2 separate regions of the Homo sapiens genome follow, and region 2 is linked to region 1. Evidence: fine-mapped expression QTL. Tissue or cell type: whole blood. Region 1 holds a variant in brackets; the other region holds the start of a gene. Each region is shown on its reference strand, or each on the opposite one. Region 1 has its middle 10 kb from the start of SENP7. Region 2 holds the start of ZNF304 (zinc finger protein 304).

What was found. PIP is the estimated chance that this variant, and not a neighbour inherited with it, causes the effect. A credible set is the group of variants that fine-mapping cannot tell apart.
Region 2: it holds the start of ZNF304, and the variant in region 1 is the best candidate, but not a certain one, in a credible set for the expression of ZNF304 in whole blood (TOPMed, PIP 0.81).

Annotation. Positions count from the first base shown.
Region 1 is chr3:101,518,991-101,527,898 of GRCh38, reverse strand. It overlaps the pseudogene ARB2BP. Among named protein-coding and RNA genes, the nearest start is that of SENP7, 10 kb to the right of the region's middle. The variant T/C (reference allele first, on the strand shown) is at 3,992.
Region 2 is chr19:57,345,672-57,355,303 of GRCh38, reverse strand. It overlaps ZNF304 (zinc finger protein 304), which reads right to left and starts at 4,033. Exons shown (of 3, transcript NM_020657.4): 1 at 3,607-4,033; 2 at 1,453-1,579. The coding sequence starts at 3,639. RefSeq lists enhancers at 3,731-3,800, 3,139-3,997, 3,951-4,040, 3,998-4,857.

The sequences.
Region 1 (8,908 bases):
TTTACATGATCACAAGGTCCCACAATAGGCTGTCTGCGAGCTGAGGAGCAAGGAGAGCCAGTCTGAGTCCCAAAACTGAAGAACCTGGAACCGATGTTCAAGGGCAGGAAGCATCCAGCACACGAGAAAGATGTAGGCTGTGAGGCTAGGCCCATCTCTCTTTTTTCATGTTTTTCTGCCTGCTTTATATTCGCTGGAAGCTGATTAGATAGTGCCCACCAGATTAAGGGTGGATCTGTTTTCCCCAGTCCACTGACTCAAATGTTAATCTCTTTTGGCAACACCCTCACAGACACACGCAAGATCAAAACTTTGTATCCTTTAATCCAATCAAGTTGACACTCAGTATTAACCATCACATAGCCCTGATATTTTCTTTTAGTAATTTTTCATCCACTGACCCCACCTTGCTCCTTGGCTATAAATCTCCACTAGTCCTTGTATTCAGAGTTGAGCCTGATCTTTCTCTCCTACTGCAAATTCCTCACTGCAGTAGTCCTTGTATAAGATCTTCCTTACTGTCTTCAACAAGTATATTAGGCCATTCTTGCATTGCTATAAGGAAATACCCAAGACTGGGTAATATATAAGAAAATAAGTTTAATTGGCTCACAGTTCTGCAGGCTGTACAGGAAGCATAGCATCAGCATCTACTTCTGGAGAGGCCTCAGGAAGCTTACAATCATGGAAGAAGGTGAGGGGGGAACAGGCATCTCACGTGGTAAGAGCAGGGGCAAGCAAGGTAAGGAGAGTACCACACACTTGTAAATGACCAGATTTTTTGAAAACTCACTATCATGAAGATGGCACCAAGCCATCAGGAATCTGCCCCCATGACCCAAACACCTCCCACCAGGTCCCACCTCCAGCATTGGGGATTACAATTCAACATGAAATTTGGGCAGGGACAAATATCCAAACTTTATCATTCTGCCCGTGGCCCAAATCTCATGTCCTCATCACTTTGCAAAATACAATCATGCCTTTCCAACAGTCCCCCCAAATCTTAACTCATTCCAGCATTAACTCAAAAGTCCAGAGTCTCATCTGAGGCAAGGCAAGTTCCTTCCATGTATGAACCTATAAAATAAAAAAGAAGTTAGTTACTTCCAAGATACAATGGAGGTATAGGCATTGGGTAAATATTCCCATTCCAAAAGGGAGAAATCAGCCAAAAGAAAGGGGCTACAGGCCCTATACAAGCTTGAAACCTAGCAGGGCAGTCATTAAATTTTAGAGCTCCAAAAACAACCTCCTTTGACTCTATGTCCCACATCCAGAGCACATTAGTATAAGGGGTGGGATCCTAAGGCCTTGGGCAGCTCCACTCCTGTGGCTTTGCAGGATCTAGCCCCTACAACTGTTCTCACAGGTTGTTGACAGCCAGGAGCTTTTCTAGGTACAGGTTGCAAGCTGCCAGTGGCTCTACCACTCTGGGGTCTGGAGGATGGTGGTCCCCTTCTCACAGCTTTCACTAGGCAGTGCCCCAGTAGAAACTCTGTGTTGGGCCTCCAACCCCACATTTCCCCTTGGCACTGTACTAGGAGCAGTTCTCTGTGAGGGCTCTGCCCCTATAGCAAGCTTCTGTCTAGACACTCGGCTTTTTTTTTTTTTTTTTTTTAAGACAGGGTCTCACTCTGTTGCCCAGGCTGGAGTGCAGTGGCACCATCATGGCTCACTGTGGGCCTAGGCATTCCAGGCTCAGTCTTCCCAACTCATCTTCCTGAGTAGGTGGGACTACAGGTGTGTGCCATCATGCCTGGCTAATTTTTGTATTTTTTGTGGAGATGGAGTTTTGCCATGTTGCCCAGGCTGGTCTTGAACTCCTAGGCTCAAGTGATCCACCTACTTTGGCCTCCCAAAGTGCTAGGATTACAGGTGTGAGCCACCATGCCTAACCACTCAGGCTTTTTCATGTATCCTCTGAAATCCAGGCAGAGGCTGCCAAGCCTCAACTCTTGCACTCTGTGCACCCACAGGCTTACCATCATGTTGAAGCCCCCAAGGCTTATGGCCTGCACCCTGTGGAGCTGTGGCCTGAGCTGAACCTGGGCCCCTTTGAGTCCTAGCTAGAGCTTGAGTAGCTGGGATGTGGGAAGCAGTGTCTGAGGCTGCACAGGGCACTGGGGCCCTTGGTCTGACCCATGAAACCATTCTTCCTTCCTAGGCCTCTGGGCCTGTAATGGGATGGGCTGCCTCAAATGTCTCTGAAATGTCTGTCCTCAAGGACTTTTCCCACTGCCTTGGATATTAGCACTTAGCTCCCTTTCAGTTATGCAAATATCTCTAGCAAGGGGTTACTCTACAGCTCACTTGAATTCCTCTCCTGAAAAAGCCTTTTTTCTACCTCATGGGCAGTTTGCAAATTTTCCAAACATTCACGCTCTGCTTCCTGCTTAAATATAAATTTTAAATTTGAGTCATTTCTTTGCTCCCACATTTGAATGTAGGCTGTTAGAAGTAGCCAGGCGACATCTTGAATGCTTTGCTGTGTAGAAACTTTTTCTGCCAGATACCTAAATCATCACTCTCACGTTCAAACTTCCACAGAACCTAGGGCAGTGGCACAATGCAGCCAAGCTCTTTGCTAAGGCATAACATGTGTGAACTTTGCTCCAGTCCCTAAGTTCCACATTTCCATCTAAGACCTCGTCAGCCTGGTCTTCACTGTCCATATCACTATCAGCATTTTGGTCACTACCATTTAACTGGTCTCTACGAAATTACAAGCTTTCCCTCATCTTCTTATCTTCTTTTGAGCCCTGCAAACCATTCCAACCTCTGCCCATTACCCAGTTCCAAAGCTGCTTCCACATTTTCAGGTATCTTTCTAGCAACATCTTTCTCCTTGGGACTAATTTTCTGTGTTAGGGTGTTCTTGCATGCTATAAAGAAATACCTGAGACTGGGTAATTTATAAAGAATAGGGGTTTAATTGGCTTATGGTTTTGGAGGCTATACAGGCAACATGGCACTAACAACTGCTTGGCTTCTGGGAAGGCCTCAGGGAGCTTTTATTCATGGTAGAAGGTGAAGGGGAGCAGGCCACTCACATGGCAGAGCAGGAGCAAGAGAGAGAGAGGGTGGGGGAGGCACCACACATTTTCAAATGACCAGATCTCACTAGAACTCACTATTGTGAAGACAGCACCAAGCTATGAGGGATCTGCCCCCATGACCCAAACACCTCCTACAGGGCCTCACATCCAGCACTGGGTATTACAATTCAACATGAGATTTGGGTAGGAACAAATATCCAAATCTAAACTGTATCAACAAGTGTCATAAATAATTTATTTCTGAACATGCTATTCCTTCTCAGTCTTTCAGCTGTAGCTGAGCTAGCCTTCTTTCTCCTGCCTGAACACCTTTGCATAGGCTGTTCATTTGCCTGTGACTTTGTTCCCCTAGCCAACTACTATTGTTCTTCAAACTAAGCATCATTTTCTTTGGGAAATATTCCCTGAACCCCAAGGCTGGTTAGCTCTCATGGTAGATATTCCATGGCACCCTTTCCTTTTTTTTTTTTTTTTTTTTTTTTTTTAAGATGGAGTTTCACTCTTGTCGTCCAGGTTGAAGTGGAGTGGCACGATCTTGGCTCACTGCAACTTTTGCCTCCCAGATTCACGTGATTCTCCTGCCTCAGCCTCCCAAGTAGCTGGGATTACAGGCGCTTGCCACCATGCTTGGCTAATTTTTGTATTTTTAGTAGAGATGGGGTTTCACCATGTTGGCCAGGCTGATCTCAAACTCCTGACCTCAGATGATCCGCCCACCTCAGCCTCCCAAAGTGCTGGGATTACAGGTATGAGACACCGCGCCCAGTCTCCTTTACTATTTAACACTCTTCACGTTTGTAATTTCTCAGCCATTGTAAACTCTGTAAAGAGAAAGGCAATGTTGGGGTTGTTTGCTACGGTGTCCCAAACACCTAGTCTTGACTGGCACATAGTAAGCACTCAGATATTAGTTGAAGATGTGAGTGAACATA[T/C]GCACAAGACCAACAAATTTATTTAAAATTTATTTTTCTTCAGACCTGGTGAACAGGGAGTACAACAAATTTTAACAAAAAACATAAACACACAAAGAATGCAGTTTGCTTATGATGTTTAATTTTTATGTTCACTTTTAATTTTACTATGGTATTATTATAGAAATCAAAGATTGATTCAATATCTAATTTTTATCAATTGCCATTTTGTTGTCATTATATCAAACCACAGCTTTTTAAAAGAAAGATCTTCACACTTAACTAACACTGTAAAATATTAATGATGACACTGAATTCCCAGTTCATCAACAGGCTACAAAAGAGAGAATATGTTCACTTTTCAAAAAAGCAACAAAATGGCCAGGTGCAGTGGCTTATGCCTGTAAGCCCAGCACTTTGGGAGGCCAAGGTGGGTGGATCACCTGAGGTCAAGAGTCCTAGACCAGCCTGGCGAACAGCCCGTCTCTAGTAAAAATACAAAAATTAGCTGGGCGTGGTGGCATGTGCCTGTAGTCCCAGCTACTTGGGAGGCTGAGGCAGGAGAACTGCTTGAAACCAGGAGGTGGAGGTTGCAGTGAGCTGAGATGGTGCCACTGCACTCCAACCTGGGTGACAGAGACTCCTCCTCCTCCTCCTCCAAAAAAAAAAAAGCAACAAACCTGGCCATGGCCATGTGCAGTGGCTAATGCCTATAATCTCAGCACTTTGGGAGGCTGAGGTGGGAGGTTCGCTTGAGGCCAGATTTCCATACCACCCTGGGCAGCAAAGTCAGACCCTGCCTCATAAAAACCAAATAATAAAAAGTAACAAATCAAACCTCAAGCCAGAACATCATATTGTGTGTGAGTTGAAAGTGTTCTTTTTTCTTCCAGAATCTGTATTAGCAAAGTTGCAGAAGGACAAAAAAATCTTAGATGACAAAAGTAGTTTAAGCACTTTGCTTTCTTTTTGTGGAGCTTCTAGTCACTATTGGCATTCGAGAGAAATTAATGGTTGTTCTGGCTTTTAAAGCTTTTTTAAAGTACTTAAAAATTGACTGAAGGCTAGAGGAAGGGGCTAAGATGTACTTTTCTGTGCCAGCAGAAACCATAGGAAATTCCTTTTTGAAAACAGTAGCTGCAGGTTTATCCAAAGGCTTAGGACTTGTCACCCATTCACGGCAGTGGTGCTTTATCCATGCTAATAATTGTACATCACTTCCCAGCTGGTGTCCTACGTGATGTTCAGAGTCGATAAGTGCAACAGCATATACTTTGCTCATCACTTCCCACCTTCTACGAACAAGCAAGTCCATAAAAACCAAGCCTCCATAACCATGTACAATGAAGGCAATATCCTTGCCTTCAGTCTTTGAAATGAAGTAATCCCATATGTAAGCCGTGTGTTCTTCGGGGGTGTTGCTGCATCTTTTTGGAATGCATTTGGGAGGATGCTGGAGAGAGAAAAAGCTCCCACCTTGAACCATTTTTAGAGAAGATGACTCAATATTTTGTGTTAAAAGGCCTTTCCACTCTTTTTCCACCTTTGGTTCCACAAAATTATCATTGGGGTTTAGCACAATTACATCATAGTGTGCCTGCAATGCCATTTGAATACATGGTATCTGACTTCCATGTTGGAGACCATGATGTATTATTGCCTGTTGACTCCACTGACCAGCTCGAAAGACCCCATGGTCTTGAAGAAGGATAAGAAGAGCAGAATGGTGATTTGTTAATGCTTTCTCGCTCATGAAAAAGAAGCTTCTTGGTTCTTCTTTATCAGCCTCAGGTGGGATATATACTTTTTCTAATTTGCACACTTTCTCCAAAAGCTCATAAATGTATTGTTCAAGCAAATGGCCAAGGGCCTGGTAGCGCTTGCTATTTTTCTCAAGGACATTTTCATAATAGTTAAAGACAAAAGGCCTTTGTGTCTCAGTATGTCTGAATTCATCTTTTTCATTGAAGTCATATTTAAGTTCTCCTAGTAAGTCAGATTGTTCAATAAATTTTTGGAAGCTCAGCTCCTGTGTCATTGGTAACCACTGAAAGTTAAAAGAGTAATAGTATATAAGTGCTAGCAAAAGTAAAATGAAAATTTCAGCTTGCCAAATTCTTCCTATGGCACATGATGCTAAATTAAGCATGTCAGAAAGACATTAACCTTCTAACCTATGGTAAAGACGTCAATTCAAAATAATTGTGAATGATTCAAAGCAGTGAAAGACTGAATATATGAAGAGACAATGGAGAGACCATATGTAAATATGGATTTTTTGACATAACCTGCAGCAACCTGCCCAGGAAGCCAACCCCTCATTTACAATAAACAACTCAGGAAGTCAGTCTGGTATGTCAGACTGGCAGGAAACCAGATTTCTATCACTAGTGAAAATTCAGGAAACTAACCAGTAACTTCTATAACAATTGGTGCCAAATGGCAAGAACTTCATTAATAACTGACAGCTTTCGTAATTTTGTCCCTATTTCCAACTTGAGACCAACCAGAGAGAGCCAAATATGTACCCCTAACCAATCACGCAAGATGTCCCCATTTCTAGTTAGCTCACCTACAGCTTCCCCATGACAACTTGCAATCAGGGCAAATGCGAAGTCTTCTCTTTTTTCCCCCACTATACAGCTCTCCTACTCTTCTGCCTGCCTTGAGTCTCTGCCAAAACGCAAGTGATAGTGGTGGACTCCCTTGCTACAGCAGGCTCAGAATAAATAGGCTTTTCTCATTTGGTTGGTCTTCATTTATTTCTGCAGAAGATATTTAATAACTTTTGCTGTTAAATGAACGGCAGAAGATAGAAGCGGGAGTGAAATGTGAATCAGGCAATGGAGATTATGATCAATTCAGCGAATACTAGAAGATACAGTTATTCTGATGTCTGAGAAGGAAAAAAATAGGCTAGATGAGAAGTTAACTTAGTTGCTGTAGGTAGAGCTTAAAGCGGGGGAAAAAAGGCTTTGAAAGGTTAAGTGGCTTTCTCTAAAGCCAGACAACTATCAAAGAAATGATTGCATATGAGGCTGACTCTCAAATGCACTCTCTTAACAGATATATTAACACTCTCCCTTCTTAATTTCTTAACACTGACACTGGCAAGCTACAACCTACTTCCAATAAGTTGCACTCAAAATGATTTTCAGTGCAACTTGAGTTGCTATTAGGCCTAAGGCAAAATTCAAATGGTGGTTGCTTGGATGTCTTAAATCTCTTTTAATTTTTTTTTTTTGAGATGGAGTCTCACTCTGTTGCCCAAGCTGGAGTGCAGTGGTGTGATCTTGGCTCACTGCAACCTCCACCTCCCAGGTTCAAGCAATTCTCCTGTCTCAGCCTCCCAAGTAGCTAGGATTACAGCATATGCCACCACACCTAGCTAATTTTTTTGTATTTTAGTAGGTTTCACCGTGTTGCCAGACTGGTCTTGAACTCCTGAGCTCAGGAAATCCACCTGCCTCGGCCTCCCAAAGTGTTAGGATTACAGGCATGAGCCACCACACCTAAATTTTTAATTTTTTTCCCCACTTCAATAAGCTGGTCTAAGATTTCTTAACTCCCTTCTCACTTTCTAAATCTTATTCTCTGACCCCTCTAACGCAACAGGTACTTTATAAAGGTTTTTGGTTGTCCAAAGCACTATCCACACTGCTCTCCATTCCTTCCTTTTCTATGAAAAATGCTTCTAGTCTTTGCTGATCTCAGGTGTTATTTTGGAGAGACAGGGTCTGACTCTGTCACCCAGGATGGAGCGTGGTGGTGTGATCACAGCTCACTGCAGCCTTGACCTTCTTATCTCAGGGAAAAAAAAATATTAAAAGAGATTTAAGACATCCAAGCAAGCACCCCCTCAGCCTCCCAGGTAGCTAGGACTACAGGCACATGCCACCGTGCCTGGCTAATTAAAACAAATTTTTTTTAGAGATGGGATCTCACTATGTTGCCTAGGCTGGTTTGAAACTCCTGGGCTCAAGTGATCCTCCTGCCTTGGCTTTCCAAAGTGCTGGGATTACAGGTGTGAGTCACCATGCCCAGCCTCTCTCTCAGATGTTATTACGTAATTAATTTACTTTTTCTAAAGTGTAAATAATTGACAGACTTAACTATCCTTTAAAAAAAAAAAAGCCTTGAAAATGGATGCAATGCACGGCAAAAATCCATGCTTCAAAAATCCAAGAATTTTTTTTTTTTTTGAGACAGAGTCTCGCTCTGTTCCCTAGGCTGGGGTGCAATGGCACGACCTTGGCTCACTGCAACCTCCACCTCCCAGGTTCAAGCTATTCTCCCGCCTCAGCCTCCCAAGTAGCTGGGATTACAGACATGTGCCACCACGCGTGGCTAATTTTTTGTATTTTTAGTAGAGACAGGGTTTCACCATGTTGGCCAGCCTAATCTCGAACTCCTGACCTCAGGCGATCCACCTGCCTCGGCCTCCCAAAGTGCTGGGATTACAGGCGTGAGCTACCGCGCCCAGCAAATCCAAAAATGTTTTACATCGAGGCCGTGGTGAAACAATCTAATGGGATGTCACAACCTTGTTCAAAATTTTCAATGGTGATGTTTGTTGACTTCTTGTTTCCAGACTGGCATGTAAAAATCTTGGAAGTTGCTACTCAGTCCTAACAACAAGTAAAAAGCTAGACAAACCAAAAATCAACAGCTCTTCTTCATAAGTTCCATAAAATAAGTAAGGTTACTGGGCATACTACTGCCTCCAAAATTGGAGGGACTGAAAGCAAGTGAATGTAGAGAATCACAACTTACCAGAGCAGAAACTAGCCGCTGAAGCCTCCAATGGAACAAGTACCAGGATAGGTAAACCTGAAGGATCAGTGTGGACAAGTCAGAGGGACCTAGCCATTCCCTCTTCCCCGCTCCCCAATTTTTTTTAAGCTCCTGGATCTCTCACAGGTCCTCAGGGTGATTATC
Region 2 (9,632 bases), not on the chromosome of region 1:
CTGCGCAACTGCATGGGACTGGGAAAATGAAAGCTGTAACGCAAACAAAGGGCAGGTGAGTGGCGCAGGTAGACCCACTCCACAGAGAAAATAGAATGTTTAGAAAAAATACTCTCCAAGGCGGATGTACCAGGACAGCCCTGTAATCACCACAAGAAGTGACTGTGTCAGCCCCTGAAATTCCTGGCACAGTCAGGCCCCAGGAAATGTCAGCCAGAGGATGAGGGCAGAATCTAGGACAAAGAGGTGCAAAGATCATGACACGGACTCAGGCAGTGGGCACCTGAGCTGTGTAGAATCTGCTTAGCAGACTGAAAAACTCCCGAATCCTAACCTTTTCCTGCAAAGCTCTAGGGCAACAGATGTTCAGATTACCCAGTGAAGGCAGAAACACTGAACACAGCCAGCCCTAGAACCCACAGCACCTACTCTGGGAAACAAAGAAGGGAAGGAGAAGAGTCATGGATCTGGATGGACAGAAAGAGTGGCCCATGGGGAAGAGAAGAAGACTCAAACCCCACCAAGGACACCGGAGTGGGTGTAAAGGCCTGTGGAACACAGCCTCTGAGATGGTCCCAGTGATCCCTACCTCTTGGTACTCTTGCCCCTGTGTAAGCCTCCTCACTTGATTGTAAGCTGGATGGACTTACTTATTTCCAAGGAATAGAATATGGCAAAAATAATGAAATGACACTTTCAAGATTAGGTTACAATCCTGGGCTTCCATCTTGAACATTCTTTTGGTCACTTGCTCAAAGAGAAGTTAGCTTCTGTGTCATAAGGTACAATACAGACAGGCCACCTGAGGGAGGACTTTGGCCAACAGCCAGCAAGGAACAGTGCTCACAGTCCAACAAGCCACAAGAAACTAAATCTTGCAAAAAGCAATGTGAGTGAGCTTGTAAGTGGATTCTTCTCAGGTAAGACCACAACACTGGCTGAGAGCTTGATTAAAACTTCATGAGAGCCAAAAGCACCTGCATAAGAAGGTGTGATCAGGCTGGGCACACTGGCTCAAGCCTGTAATCCCAGCACTTTGGGAGGCCAAGGAGGAAGGATCGCTTGAGGTCAGGAGCTCTAGACCAGCCTGGGCAACGTAGCAAGACCTTATCTCTACAAAAAGTAAAATAGCCGGGCGTGGTGGCATGCACCTATAGTCCCAGCTACTCAGGAGGGTGAGGTGGGGGGGATCACTTGAGCCCAAGAATTTGAGGCTGCAGTGAACCATGATCACAACACTGCACTGTAGCCTGGGTGACAGAGTAAGACTCTCTGAAAAAACAAAAAACAAAAAACAAAAAAAAAACCCTCAAAATAATAAACAACAAAAAATGCTCTAACCAGATTACCAATGCACTGAAACTGGAGAGATAATTGATTTTTATTGTTTGCAGTTACTAAGCTTTGGGATAATTTGCCATGTAGCATTAGATAACTAAAACACAGACTTACCTAGTGTAGCCACAAGTGCAAAGTTCTCCAGCATCACATCACGGTACAGGAATCTCTGTGCCTCCTCAAGGAGTTCCCACTCCTCCCGAGAGAAGTACACGAACACATCCTCGAAGGTCACACAACTCTGCCATGATAAGTACAGCTGAGTCCACAGTCAGCATCTCTCCCCAGAACCCCCTCCTCCCCAGTCTACACACTCACACACCCACTCTCTAGTCCCTCGCCTCCCCAGCCTCCCAACTAAGAGGAGATAACAGACCTTGGCACCACTAGTGTCTGCTCTCTCCTCATGTCCCTCTCACCACTGTGTCCAGCCCAGAGCAGAACCAGGCAAGTGTGCAGACAGATGCTGTCTCAACTCTGGGTCTGGCATGAAGGGTCCCAAATACTCGCCTACCAACCAGTTCTCCTGGTGTTGTCCAGACGATGCCTCTAAACACAACCAAACTTCAGCTCCATCTTCTCCCATGAGCTGCCAATACTAGAGTCTTAAGGGCATCAGTTCACACTCCTCCCAACGTGCTCATTACTCTTTGGACTACACCTTCCTCACATCTGAGATCCCCACCGCCACTGGCCCATGCCATATGCACCTCCATGACATCCCTCATCCCCCATGCCACTCTGCAAGCAGTGTCCAGGAAGCGCTCGCGTCTTCACACTATCCACCACTGCCGTCCAGGTGCCTAAGCAACAGACCCAGTTTTCTCTCAGTGTCCAGTTTCAACTTTCTTACTGAATAACAGCATTACCACCATGATTTGAAGATACCCCATCCCACTCCACACACTGGCCACCATTTTTTTCAACTTCTTCAACAGAACCCTTCCCCAGAACTAAAAACCTGTGTGTTTTCCTGAGGCCTCAACTAAGATGACAACTGAGACCTCTTAACCTAAACATGACCAAAGCCTAACTCCTGATATAACCACTAAAAATCATACCTGCTGCCAACTTCTCTATCTCAGTTGATGGCATTTTCATAATTTTACCAGCTACAGCAAAAACAAACCAACCTTAGGGTCATCCACGACTCTCCTCTCTTTCACCTTTCGCATCAAAAAATCCAATCACCCTACTTTAAAAAACAGAAAATTTACCAACTTCTCTCACCTCCACAGCCACACCTCTAGACCAGACACCATCAACACTACTGCAGTAGCTGCTCCCTCATGCTCACAGTCTGTTCTCAACCTGAAAGCCAGAGAGAGCATGTTAAAATCTGAGTCAGATCATCTCCCTCCTCTGCTCCAAATCTCCCACGACTTTTACCACACTCAAGACACCTCGGCCAGCCATTCCTGCCTAACTCCTTCCTCTGATACCTGTTTCCAACAAAGGTAATTAAGACCTGAGATTCCCTGAGCGCTCCAAACTCAATCCTACAAGCATTTGAGCGTACCTGTTCCTAGGTCTGATATACTTTTGCAGTACTCATCCCATTGGTCGCCAGGTGGGGACTTCTCCACATAACTCCATACAACTCATGGCCTGGATTCAGGACACTAAACTAGAAATGACCTCCATTCACTGCCCCCTGTCTCAAGTGAAGACAGTCATGTGAAGAATCCCAGGATATCATCACTATGTCTCATCAGAGAATCTGGTCAGCCTTCCTTATAAAATACATACAAAACCCAAAACCCATACATTCTCTAACCTCTGCTGCCACCACTCTGGCCCAGACCATCAACGCTCACCTGGACTATTTCAGTAGACTTCATCTTGATCTCCCCGTCTACCCTATAATCCCTAGTCTACCCACTCTGCAGCCAGAGGGAGCCTTTTAAGAACTGCGTCAGAGGACCTCCCTTCTCTGTACCAAACCTTGCATGACTCCCAGCACCCTCAGAAGAGAGGACCAGCTCCTCGGGCGGCCATTCCAGGCCTACCTCTGACCCCCTAGTCCCTGTTCTCACCAGGCACAGAGAGTTCCCGGAACTCCCCAAACTCATTCTCCTCTCCATGCATGCATTTGTACGAACTGCCCCTGCGCCTTCGAGTCCGTTCCACACCTTATGCCACTGATGAGGGGAGCGGAACCCCTCCACATAATGCGACGGAGTGAGCACCCTGAAGTGCGCGATGAGAGCGAACATCCCAGGACACACCAACCAGGCCGGGGTGCGCTTGAGGGATGCCCCCACTCACCTGAACCCGGTCCATCAGCACCGCCGCTGCCATGAGAAGCGGATGAACAGTCTGTGCCCTGTGGGCTCAGCCGAAACCCCACGCCTCCACCGCGCTGGACGCCCTCGGGCTGAGTGTAGCACTCCAAGTCTCAATCTACCCGGTGTAAAAACGCTCACAAGACTAAGGCGGCTGCTTCTGGGGGAGACAAGGACAAGAGGACGTGTGTGGAGGCCTCGGTAAGAGCCCAGCCCCGGCAGACACCTCCGCGAGAGGCCGCCCGTCCCACGACAGGGGTCATGGATTGTAACAAAAGCGCGAAGGAAGGTCCTGCAGTCTTCACTGTCTTTCTTTGCTAGGTTCCACGAGAGCCGCGTAGAAAGCCGACCCGATCTCTAGAACTCAGCCTTCACAACCAGAATGCACGGACCGGGCATAGGAAAAATACGTCACGACGGCGACGCCAGAAGTCTCGCCCCTGCAGCCCAGAGCAGCAGGAAACGCCCAGTTTCTGGGCTGTCATTGGCTGCACGCCGGCTAACAATGAGCTGGGCACAGATTTCTGGGTAACGTAGTTTGTACCCTGCATCCAACCAGGCAACGAGCGCCTTTCGGGTTCTCCCGGATGTCTGCCAAGAGGCGTCGTGCAGGGAGGGGGAGAAAAGACTGGGAAAACGATATCTCGGAGGCCACAGCTGCTTTTAAAGGGTATGCACCCTGATTTCCATGGCCACCTGGGACAATGCCACGCCACTGAAGTCGCCAGCAAGGGACCCATTCTTCAATCCTGCTTCTGAGGCCCTGGGAAACCTGCTTCACCTCTCTCAGATTTGGGGATTGAAACGTATTAATAAATTGAACGTTGTCTGTATTTCGTTTGTGGGCCTTTTTGTAAAACATTGAATGTCCTTCTAATTTTTCTAACATATAAAGAAAAGAGATGTAATTAGCTACCTTTCTGCTGGCTGTACAGGAAGCATGGTGCCCGTATCTGCTTCTGGTGAGGCCACAGGGAACTTTTATTCATGGCGAAAAGTGAAGGAGGAACTTACATGTAACATGACGAAAACATGAGCCTCTTCTAATTCATTGCTTCCCAATTTGATATGTAGTTTTACAGCATCAGCTTCACTATGAACTTAAAAAACCTGTGAATTCTTGGACCCAACCTATACCTTCTGATAAACTCTGGGGATGGGACCCTAGCTGAAGTTCAAGAACTGGAGGTCTTTTAAAGTCATTAGCCAAAAACAAAACAAAACAAAAACAAACAAAAAAAAATCAGTAAGATGAAAAACACTACAACCAACCTCATTAGGAATATGGGAAGTGAGGTAAAAAGTACTTAACACCAGGCCTGGCACATCGTGCTAAATACATACAAGCTGTTATCAGTCTTCCTCAACACAAGGTTCTCACATACACTGCTTTAGGAAGATAAATCAAAGATCCACCTTTTCAGGATCAGTGTGATTTTGAAAAAAAAAGAAAAAAGTACAATTATTCCCTCACTCATCAAATAGCATCATAGATAATAGTTATAATTTTTTTTTGAGACAGAGTTTCACTCTTGTTGCCCAGGCTTAAGTGCAATGGCACGATCTCAGCTCACTGCAACCTCTCCCTCCCAGGTTCAAGCGATTCTCCTGCCTCGGCCTCCCGAGTAGCTGGGATTACAAGCATCCGCCACCATGCCCGGCTAATTTTGTATTTTTAGTAGAGATGGGGTTTCTCCGTGTTGGTCAGGCTGGTCTCGAACTCCTGACCTCAGGTGATCCAACTGCCTCAGTCTTCCAAAGTGCTGGGATTACAGGTGGGAGCCCCTAATGGTTATAATTTTTGCACAAAAGCACACCAATATATCAATAGACTCATTTAATTGAAAAAAATCACATGCAAGAGGGTTTCATAAACTACAGGTAGGTCTATCGTCCAGAAGACACATTCTTATAGGCTGTATGATTCAAAACACAGAACTATCAAGACTAATTGCTCTTCATAATTTTTAACTCCACTGTCCACTTAAGAGTCACTGTAGTTAAAATTTTATAACCTGGTTTATTTTATGAGATGACATAGAAATAATTCATATCTTTGAGAAAAAATATATATACACACATACACACAGCATTTATATATATATACACATGTAGTTTATATACACACATACATAATTATATATATGTATAATATAAATTATCTGTCTCCACTCAAAGCCAATATAAATTTAGGTGTCAGGAACACATGGAATAACATACGGAGTCAGTTACAGATATAACTGCCAGCAGATTTCTATGCACGACAAATGCACTGGCTAAGAAAAACTGAAATAAGACTATTTGAAGCCCAAAATGAGAAATTTAATGGATAAAAATAACTGGCATAAAATAACACTTTTAAGATCCTTCTTAAGGTTGAAGGAAAGTGATCCCAGGTGATGGTCTGTGATGATAGAAGAAATGAGGATCTGAGAGAGGAGTGCATCTATGGATTAATGAGACCACTCATTATCTGTATAAAATATTAATACTGTTGGGCGCGGTGGCTCACGCCTGTAATCTCAGCACTTTGGGAGGCCAAGGCAGGCGGATCACGAGCTCAGGAGTTCGAGACCAGCCTGTCCAACATGGTGAAACCCTGTTTCTACTAAAAATACAAAAATTAGCCAGGCGTGGTGGTGGGCGCCTGTAATCCCAGCTACTCAGAAGGCTGAGGCAGGAGAATCACTTGAACCCGGGAAGCGGAGGTTGCAGTGAGCCAAGACTGTGCCACTGCACTCCAGCCTAGGCAACAGAGTGAGACTGCATCTCAAAATAAATAAATAAATAAAAATTAAAATAAAAAATAAAATAAAATATTAATACTTCTGGAAACAGAATGGTGGAATTACCATGCATATCCTCAATAGTATATAAACTCATATGGGCAAATTAACTAACATATAAGTTTCTTATATTTCTTGAGGAGAGCAAATACATTAACTCTATAATGTATTAAATAACTGTTTTAAAGCTTAAACATTAACTGAATCAGAGTATATATCTTACAAATTTAAAGAAAATGTAAATGTAAAGAAAACATTACAAAAAATAAAGTACACACAATAAGTAAGGCAAAGAAAAGCACACACACAACCAGAGGATGTATATAAACCCAAATATATCAGCTATCTCATGAAATGAGTATGGAATAAATTCTTAAATTAGCACTTAGTAAGTTTTGATGTGTTAAAAATTTCCAAAAGGCCAGGCACAGAGGCTCATGCCTATAATTCCTGCAATGTGGGAGGCTGAAGCAAGAGAACTGCTTGAGGTCAGGAATTCTATTAATAGATCAGCCTGAGCCACGTAACAAGGCCCCATCTCTACCAAAAAAAAAAAAAAAAAAAAAAAAAAAGTAATAGCAGGGTGTGGTGGCACAAGCCTGTAATCCCAGCTACTCAGGAGGCTGAGCCAGGATGATGACTTGAGCCAAGGCTGCACAGAGTTCTGATGGTGTCACAGCACTCCGGCCTGGGAGAGACAGTAAGACCGTCTCTCATAAAGAACAAAAACAAAAAACAGTAGTATGGGTACAAGAAACACTTGTAGAGTATAATATTAGAAAACTATATGAAACAGCTTTGGGAAAAATATATTTAATACAACAAAGAATTAACACATGAAAATGAAAATTTATATCAGAAAATATCAGTATTAAAGAAACGATCACTGGCCAAGTGCAGTGGCTCATGCCTGTAATCCCAGCACTTTGGCAGGTCAAGGCAGGTGAATCAGGAGTTCAAGACCAGCCTGGCCAACATGGTGAAACCCCGTCTCTACTAAAAATACAAAATTAGCTGGGCGTGGTGGCGGGCACCTGTAGTCCCAGCTACTCAGGAGGCTGAGGTGAGAGAATCGCTTGAACCCGGCAGGCGGAGGTTGCAGTGAGCCGAGAGATCACGCCATAGCACTCCAGCCTGGGCGACAAGAGCTAAACTCCATCTCAAAAACAAAAAAAAAAAGAAAGAAAGAAAGAAAGAAAACAAAAAAAGAAAGAAATGATCACCAAGAAATTATATTTTGAACTCTATGTAATGTATAATGCTGACTTGTATTACATAAAGCAACAATTTGTAAAAGGATAAAGACATAAATCTATGAATATGCTGAGCATTTTTATGTCCATTATCTCAGCAATTAGTAGAAACAATATAAAATTGTTAAAGTTCTAGTGAATTCTCATGCCAAGATTGATAATTCTGGTCTAATAAATACAAATATGGGGTGCTTATATTTAGTACAACTGAATATTTACAGAACTATCAATATAGATGACTGAAAACTATCTTCAATTCACATAGAGTGAAATAAGACACATGATGCTATCAAGATATGAATCAATAAAAGAGATACATGGAAAATATGAAAAGAAGTAAATATACTCTGTGGGAGGCTAAGCCTCAGCAGGATCTTTGGCATTTATCAAAACATAAAATACAATAACACCCTAACTCAGCAGCTAGCCTCATAGGTATGATTAAAGATTTTACATGAAAGCACACATTTGGGTTATTTCTTCAACAGTTCAGAAAAAGTGTGCCTAAAACCATAGGTAGGCATGCTGCTCAAGAGACTCGTTATTACAGGCCACAAGATTCAAATTTTTGGACTGTAGTCCCAGTTATTCGGGAGGCTGAGACAGGAGAATGGCTTGAGTCTAGGAGTTCAAAGCTGCTATGTGCTATGATCCCGCCACTGTACTCTAGCCCGAGCAACAGAGCGAGACCCTGTCTCTAAAACTAAAATTTTAAAAAGAAGATTCTAATTTTGGAAATAGCAGGACTAATTGCTCTCAGACCTAAGTGGAGAGTAGAATTCATCCCGTTTCAAGTTTGTGACTTTAGAGGACACTTCCTTATTCATCTTTCATTCACAGTAACCGAAACCTGCCTCTCTACCTCTCGTTCTCCCTTCTGGCACTCAAGGCAGGTAGATCCAATCACAAACTTGATTATGAGAGGGTCCTGCCTGAAACTAAGAGACATAAGTCAGGTCCTGTCCTCATCAAAACATCACCAGCTGGGCGTGGCGGCTCACGCCTGTAATCCCAGCACTTTGGGAGGCCGAGGCGGGCAGATCACCTGAGGTTGGGAGTTCAAGACCAGCCTGACCAACATGGAGAAACCCCGTGTCTAGAAATACAAAATTAGCCAGGCCTGGTGGCATATGCCTGTAACCCAAGCTAGTCGGGAAGCTGAGGCGGGAGAATTGCTTGGACCCGGGAGGCGGAGGTTTCGTTGAGCGGAGATCGCACCATTGCACTCCAGCCTGGGCAATAAGAACGAAACTCCATCTCCAAAAACAAAAACAAAACACAAAAAAACCACCATCACCGCTGAGTACAGTGGCTCATGCCTGTAATCCCAGCACTTTGAGAGGCCGAGGTGGGTGGATCACTTGAGGTCAGGAGTTCAAGACCAGCCTGGCCAACATGGTGAAACCCCGTCTCTACTAAAAATACAAAAATTAGCAGGGCATGGTGTTGGGTGCCTGTAATCCCAGCTACTTGGGAGGCTGAGGCAGGAGAATCGCTTGAACCTGGGAGGTGGAAGTTGCAGTGAGCCGAGATTCTGCCATTGCATTCCAGCCTGGGCGACAAGAGCAAAACTCTGTCTCAAAAGCAAAACAAAAGCAAAAACAAAAACAAAACAAAACAAAACACCACCGCCATCAAATTTTGTTTCTGTAGCACAGGAAGACTATAGTCACAATATAAATTGTCTCCACTCACATCCAGTATATAGTGACTCATGGATGTAGTGGAAGGATACAGTGAAGTTACTGAAGAAATAAGTGCAAACCTAGATTTCTATTCACAACAATAGTGTTTTTCAAGAAGCAGTATAAAATAAGACCATATGAGGTAAAAAATGAAAATTTTAGTTAAAAAGGTAACCCAAAAGGTTATATTTAAGGCAAAAAAAAAGTGATTCCAGGTGAGAGATCTGCGTGATATAAGGAATGCATCTGCGGATCAATACAATTATTCATTATCTGTATAAAACA